Linked DNA regions of Homo sapiens. The protein of the gene in region 2 purifies or fractionates together with the protein of the main gene of each other region. This does not show direct contact. Each region holds a gene or a part of one and is shown on either strand. Other genes may lie near its edges.

Region 1 (3,547 bases), on a different chromosome or scaffold from region 2:
AAAAAATAAGAAAGAAAAGTGACAGTGTGAATGCTCCCATTGTTTCCTCAGCCAAGATGTTCCGAAGGGTGCTCACCATCGTGCAGGCCCACTGTAAGCTGGGTTTGACTGCGACCCTCGTCCGCGAAGATGACAAAATTGTGGATTTAAATTTTCTGATTGGGCCTAAGCTCTACGAAGCCAACTGGATGGAGCTGCAGAATAATGGCTACATCGCCAAAGTCCAGTGTGCTGAGGTAGCTGGGCCTGGGCTGGGGGCGTCTGGGAAAGGGCCTCCTCCTATGGGCAGGGGAGTGATCAGATCGATTCCTCATGGGCAGACACAGGTCAGGACTTAGGCTCACCTGCTACCACTTCATACAGGATCCTCAGTCACCCTGTGGTTGGGTGGTACTAGACCCACTTGCTGCATATCTTCTGTCTTGTCACATATCTCACATACCCCTGAATTTGTGATGATTCTTTTTCCTAGCCATGGGGTTTACCAGTCATGGATTTCTGTGGGTGAGGATTAGCATTCAGGGCACAGGGATGAATGAAGGCCCCTGATACCACAGTGCTGCCTGGGAGCCTGGCAGCAAAGGGCTTTGCTCTGATAGCCCCAAGCGCCTAACTGATATGCTCCCAGCCCTGCTGGGAAGTGTGTGAAGAGGTGGCGGTACTCAGTAGCAGTGCTGACTCGTGTGTGGAAGTGTGGCTTAAATGGAAGAATTGCTGACACTACCAATTGAGAATCTGGTTTCGCACACTTGCAGCTGGTGTGAAAATAACTCCCTGGATGTGATTGCATTTAAAAATCTTTTAAGTGGTTAACATGTGAAAACGTCCAGTTCAATAGGAGGTATTAGGTTGGGTTTAGTTTTGTGCATGCATTTATTTTCAGTTGTACTGATTTCTAATTCACATAGCATTTTTTTTTTTTTAAAACAGGGTCTCACTCTGTCACCCAGGCTGGAGTGCAGTGGCGTGATCTTGGCTCACTGCAACCTCCGCCTCCTGGGCAAGTGATTCTCCTGCCTTAGCCTCCTGCGTAGCTGGAATTACAGACATGCACTACCACACCCAGCTAATTTTTGTATTTTTAGTAGAGACTGGGTTTCACTGTGTTGGCCAGGCTGGTCTTGAACTCCTGGCCTCAAGTGATCTGCCTGCCTCAGCCTCCCAAACTGCTGGCATTACAGGCATGAGCCACTGCACCTGACTGGTTTTGTTTTAAAGCTAATTCTGCTAGAGAAAGGTCTTCAAAAGTTTTAAATTGTGTGGTGTTTAAACTTGTAAAATGACCCCTGGTTCTTACTGTATTACAGGTCTGGTGCCCTATGTCTCCTGAATTTTACCGGGAATATGTGGCAATCAAAACCAAGAAACGAATCTTGCTGTACACCATGAACCCCAACAAATTTAGAGCTTGCCAGTTTCTGATCAAGTTTCATGAAAGGAGGAATGACAAGATTATTGTCTTTGCTGACAATGTGTTTGCCCTAAAGGAATATGCCATTCGACTGAACAAGTAAGAATTGAAAACTTGGAGCTTCCTCCAGGCCAGTTTCTCTTCCCCATTGAGAGTGCAGAAGGTGGCTGTTGTTTTGTTTTTTTGTTTTTCTCTCAGGAACTTCTTGGGCTCCAAAGATCTTGTTCTGTGGCCCTGGTCTCAGAAACCAGGGAAGACCTGAAGTAGGTGGTTGGAGTCAGAGGTTAGAGCATAGAGAAAAGGGGGGCTAGTCACCTTGAGCCCAAAGAACAGGGAGCAGAGACTTGGACTGAGCTGGGTGGGGCCCCATGGAAGATCTGGGCTCCAAAGGTGGGTGGGAGTTGGCATTTGGAGCTTTGGGCTGTGTGAGCTCTGTGGGTGGAGAGGAGGCCAGACTGGATGGCCTAGGGGCTGGGAAGGCAAGATGGGCTGGGCTGGCATCCCAAGTACGGACTGGCATCTGGAAGGAGCTTAGAAATGCCCACGCAGTATCCTCATCAACCCATGGCTCCACCCAAATATTTGTGCTTAAAACCTGGCTTTTGTAAAGCTCTGCCAAGTAAGGAGGAAGAGGTCTGCGCTTGCTCCTACAGTGACACAGGACTTCAGGTGCTGTAAGTGTTGCAGAAGGCCAGGCCCTCTATGGAGACAGGTCAAGCTATGTGCTATGGGTACTATACATAGGTTTTACTTAATCCTCACTTCAGCCATATAAAATGTTGTTCCCATTTTATAGAAGGGAAGACAAACTCATAGAAAGATTAAATTTCTTAAGTTTCTAAAATTATACCTTTATTTAATTTAGAAAGACTTTTTAATCCAAGTCAACATTTAGATTATTGTGAAAAACAGCAATTCCCTGCTTCTATTTTCCCACCCACAATTCTATTCCTTGAAGACAGCCGCTTTTGACTCTTTTTTGTTGTTTACCTTCATATTTCTTTCTTTCTTCCTTTTTTCTTTTTTTTTTTTTGGAGTTAGGGTGTCACTGTGTCACCCAGTCTGTAGTGCAGTGGTGTAATCACGGCTCACGGCAGCCTTGACCCCCTGGGCTCAATCAATCCTTCCACCTCAGCCTCCCGAGTAGCTGGGTCTACAGGCACGCACCACCACACCCAGCTAATTTTTGTTTTTTGTAGAGATGGGGTTTTGCTATGTTGCCCAGGCTGGTCTCAAACTCCTGAGCTCAAGCAGTTCCTCCTGCCTTGGCCTCCCAAAGTGCTGGGATTAGAGTCATGAGCCACCACACCTGGCCAGCCTTCATCTTTCTAAGCAATAGCTTATGTAGTAATTTCTTGATGATCAGTTATAGAAATTGCCTATTAACTTCCTACTGTAGGAGTTGAGGGTTTAGCTTTCTTACATACACCACTCTCCCCACTCCTGTTTTCTCTCCTACCATTCTCCCAATATGGGAATAGCACAAGTTGGGGGTTACTTTAATATTCAGTTACATTATTTTGACTGTGTAAGTATGTTCAGGCAGAGCTGTAGAGTACTATTACATTTTCCTTTTTTTTTTGAGACGGAGTCTTGCTCTGTTGCCAGGCTGGAGTGCAGTGGCGCTATCTCAGCTCACTGCAACCTCTGCCTTGTGGGTTCAAGTGATTCTCCTGCCTCAGCCTCCTGAGTAGCTGGGACTACAGGCACCCGCCACCACAGCCTGGATAATTTTTGTATTTTTGGTAGAGATAGGGTTTCACCATATTGGCCAGGATGGTCTCGATCTCTTGACCTCGTGATCTGCCTGCCTCGGCCTTCCAAAGTGCTGGGATTACAGGTGTGAGCCACCATGCCCGGCCTTACATTTTCTTTTTTGTAAATGTTTTTTTGCCTTGGAGTTAATAATTGCCTTGTCATTGTTTTTGCTTGGTTTTCTGTGCATTGAATAATTATTCCCCTCCAAAGTCTTCACATAACCATAAACTCAGTAGGGTCAGGTAATTTCTCAGTTCTGTTTTTCTGTTTCCCCAGTGGGATCCCCACCAGCACTCCATTCGCTTACTCTGTTCTGGCCTGCTTGCTGTCTAGGACTAGAGACACCACCAGCTGTTACCATGGGGTTTCCCTTGGACA
Region 2 (3,547 bases):
AATTTCTTGTAGAGATGTTTCTCAATCTCTCATCTCAGCTCTTTAAGGACAGCAAAGAGGGATCCAGATAGGAAGAGAGATGCAAAGAAGAGAGAAGAGGGCTGGGCGCACCGGGCGCGGTGGCTCATGCCTGTAATCCCAGCACTCTGGGAAGCTGAGGCAGGCGGATCACGAGGTCAGGAGTTTGAGACCAGCCTGGCCAAGATGGTGAAACCCCGTCTCTACTGAAAATACAAAAATTAGGTGGGCGTGGTTGTGTGCGCCTGTAATCCCAGCTATTCGGGAGGCTGAGGCAGGAGAATCACTTGAACCTGGGAGGCAGAGGTTGCAGTGAGCAGAGATCACACCACTGCACTCCAGCCTGGGTGACAGAATGAGACTCTGTCTCAAAAAAAAAAAGAAGAGAGAAGAGGACAATGGAGAGCCTAAGATGGAACTAAAATATCACCCTGAAAAAGAAAACTCACGGTAAGTATGAAAACACCAACAAAGAATTCCGTTAAATCGGGAGGGAGGAAGGGAAGGTCGGGTAGAGACACTTTTAAACACATGCAGAACTTGATGAGGTAGTCTTGAAAACGCAAGCCTTCTGGGAAGAAGGAGAAAAAGAATGAAAGGGTACCCTCTGTTGGCCGGGCGCGGTGGCTCACGCCTGTAATCCTAGCACTTTGGGAGGCCAAGGCGGGCGGATCACGAGGTCAAGAGATGGAGAACAGCCTTGCCAACATGATGAAACCCAGTCTCTACTAAAAATACAAAAATTAGTTGGGTGTGGTGGCGCGTGCCTGTAGTCCCAGCTACTCAGGAAGCTGAGGCAGGAGAATTGCTTGAACCCGGGAGGCAGAGGTAGCAGTGAGCAGAGGTTGCAGTGAGCCAAGATTGCGCCACTGCACTCCAGCCTGGAGACAGAGCAAGACTCCGTCTAAAACAAAACAAAACAAAACAAAACCAAAGAGAAAGGGTACCCTCTGAAAACTGTGCTGTGAAAGACACAAAGAAAATGTAAGAGCCAAAGGACATAGAACCACCTCCCCGACAAAAAAGCCTTCTAGTAGAATTAGAAGCCATACTTGACTACACCTAGAAAAGAATAGGAACTACTCTTGAACTAGGAATCTCAAAAATCATCCTGAATGACTGTCACTCCTGCTCACGAAATGCAAACTTCGAGAAAAAAAAAAGATTGAAAAGAATGAAAGAACCTCAGGATCCTGTGGGCTAATATCAAAATGTCTAACTCACATACAATTGAAGTGAAATTGAACTCACATACAGAAGAAGTGAAAGAGAATGGAACAGAAGAAATATTTTTAAAACTAATAGCTCCAAATTTCCCAAATTGGCCGACAGACATAAATTTACAGATTTAAGAAGCTCTGCAAATCTCAAGAATAAATCTCCGGATAAATACAAATAAAATGACACCTAGATACACCACAGACAAACTGCTAAAAAACAAAAATAAAGAGAAAATCTTGAAAGCAGGTAGAGAATGATAACACATTACATACAGAGTAATGAATGATGCAAATGATGGCTCCATTTTACAATAAAGGTAAGAAACATATCTAGAAATCAATTTAACAAAATATGTATAAGACTTCTGAACTGAAAACCATAAAACAGAACTAAAAGAATTTTTTTTTTTTGAGACAGAGTTTCACTCTTGTTGCCCAGGCTGGAGTGCAATGGCACCATCTCGGCTCACTGCAACCTCTGCCTCCCAGGTTCAAGTGATTCTCCTGCCTCAGCCTCCAGAGTAGCTGGGATTACAGGCATGCGCCACCATGCCTGGCAAATTTTGTATTTTTCGTAGAGACAGGGTTTCTCCATGTTGGTCAGGCTGGTCTCAAACTCCTGACCTCAGGTGATCCACCCGGCTCAGCCTCCCAAATTGCTGGGATTACAGGTGTGAGCCGCCACACCTGGCCCAAAATTTTTATTTTTATTATTATTATTTTTTGAGACAGAGTTTTGCTCTTGTTGCCCAGGCTGGAGTGCAATGGCACTATCTCAGCTCACTGCAACCTCCACCTCCTGAGCAAGTTCAAGCAGTTCTCCTGCCTCAGCCTCCCAAGTAGCTGAGACTACAGGCACCTGCCACCACACCTGGCTAATTTTTGTATTTTTAGTAGAGACGGGGTTTCACCATGTTGGCCAGGCTGGTCTCGAACTCCTGACCTCAGCTGATCTGCCCGCTGCAGACTCCCAAAGTGCTGGGATTACAGGCATAAGCCACTGCACCCGGCCTAAAAAGAAATTTTAAAAGGCTTAAATAAGAAGGAAAATGCACCAAGTTCATATATTTGAAGACTCAATACTGTTTAGGTGTCATTTCTTTCCAAATTGATCCATAGATTCAATGCAATCCCAATCACAACTTTACCAGACTTTTCTGTAAAACTGGTAAAGATAATTCTGATATTTATATGGAAATGCAGAGGATTTAGAATATTCACATCAAGCTTGAAAACAACAAAATTGGAAGACCTACAACTACATGACTTCAAGACTTACTAAAAAGCTACAGTAATTAAAAGTGTGGTACTAACACAAGGATTGAACAATGGAACAGAAAAGGGAGTGCAGACATCAATTACCATTTGTACAGTCATCTTAATTTCCAAAACGCAATACAATAGCATTTTCAACAAATGGTGCTGGAATGACTGGATATCTATATGGAAAAGAAATTAATATTTAATTATATCTCACACCATTCACCTAAACTAGAAATGGGTGATAGGCTTAAACATAAAACTAAAACTATAAAATTTATAGGCCGGGCACGGTGGCTCACGCCTATAATCCCAGCATGTTGGGAGACCGAGGCGGGTGGATCACAAGGTCAAGAGTTCAAGACCAACCTGGCCAACCTGGTGAAACCCTGTCTCTAATAAAAATACAAAAATTAGTTGGGCATGGTGGCGCATGTCTGTAATCCCAGCTACTCGGGAGGCTGGGGCAGGAGAATCGCTTGAACCTGGGAGGCAGAGGTTGCAGTGAGCGGAGATCGCCATCACCGCACTCCAGCCTGGACGACAGAGCAAGACTCTGTCTCAAAAAAAAAAAAAACTTACAGAAGAAAACATGAAAGATTATCTTCACAGCCTGAAGGTAGCCAAGATTTCCTAGGACTCAGAAAGCAGTAACTATAAAAGAAAATATAAGAGAAAACTGATTACATCAAAATGTAAAACTTCTGTTCATCAGACAACTCTAAGAAAATGAATAGGCAACCAGACAGAGGACAGGTAACCAGGATATAAAGGTTATATAAATAACTGCTACAACTCAATAATAAAAAGACACACAACCCAATGTAAAATGGGCAAAAGATTTGAGCAGGCACTTCACAAAGGAAGATGCACATTGTCATGGGCACAGGAAAAAGTGCTAAACACCATTAGTGACTGAGGACTAAAATTAAGACCATGACACACCACACCCATCAGAATAACTCAAAAGACTGACAACACCAAATGCTGGCAAGGATGTAAAGCAACTGGAACTCTCATACACTGTTGGCAGGAAACAGGCTGATAAA

Evidence for each region.
Region 1: the proteins of RAD52 (region 2) and ERCC3 purify together in Homo sapiens (affinity purification with western blotting; one study listed by BioGRID). This does not show direct contact.

The regions. Positions count from the first base shown.
Region 1 is NC_000002.12:127,277,136-127,280,682, reverse strand, and holds part of ERCC3 (general transcription and DNA repair factor IIH helicase/translocase subunit XPB), read left to right. Parts: intron 1-51; coding exon 52-236; intron 237-1,307; coding exon 1,308-1,510; intron 1,511-3,547. UniProt on the Homo sapiens protein: ATP-dependent 3'-5' DNA helicase/translocase. Binds dsDNA rather than ssDNA, unzipping it in a translocase rather than classical helicase activity. Component of the general transcription and DNA repair factor IIH (TFIIH) core complex.
Region 2 is NC_000012.12:939,687-943,233, forward strand, and holds part of RAD52 (DNA repair protein RAD52 homolog), read right to left. Parts: intron 1-3,547. UniProt on the Homo sapiens protein: Involved in double-stranded break repair. Plays a central role in genetic recombination and DNA repair by promoting the annealing of complementary single-stranded DNA and by stimulation of the RAD51 recombinase.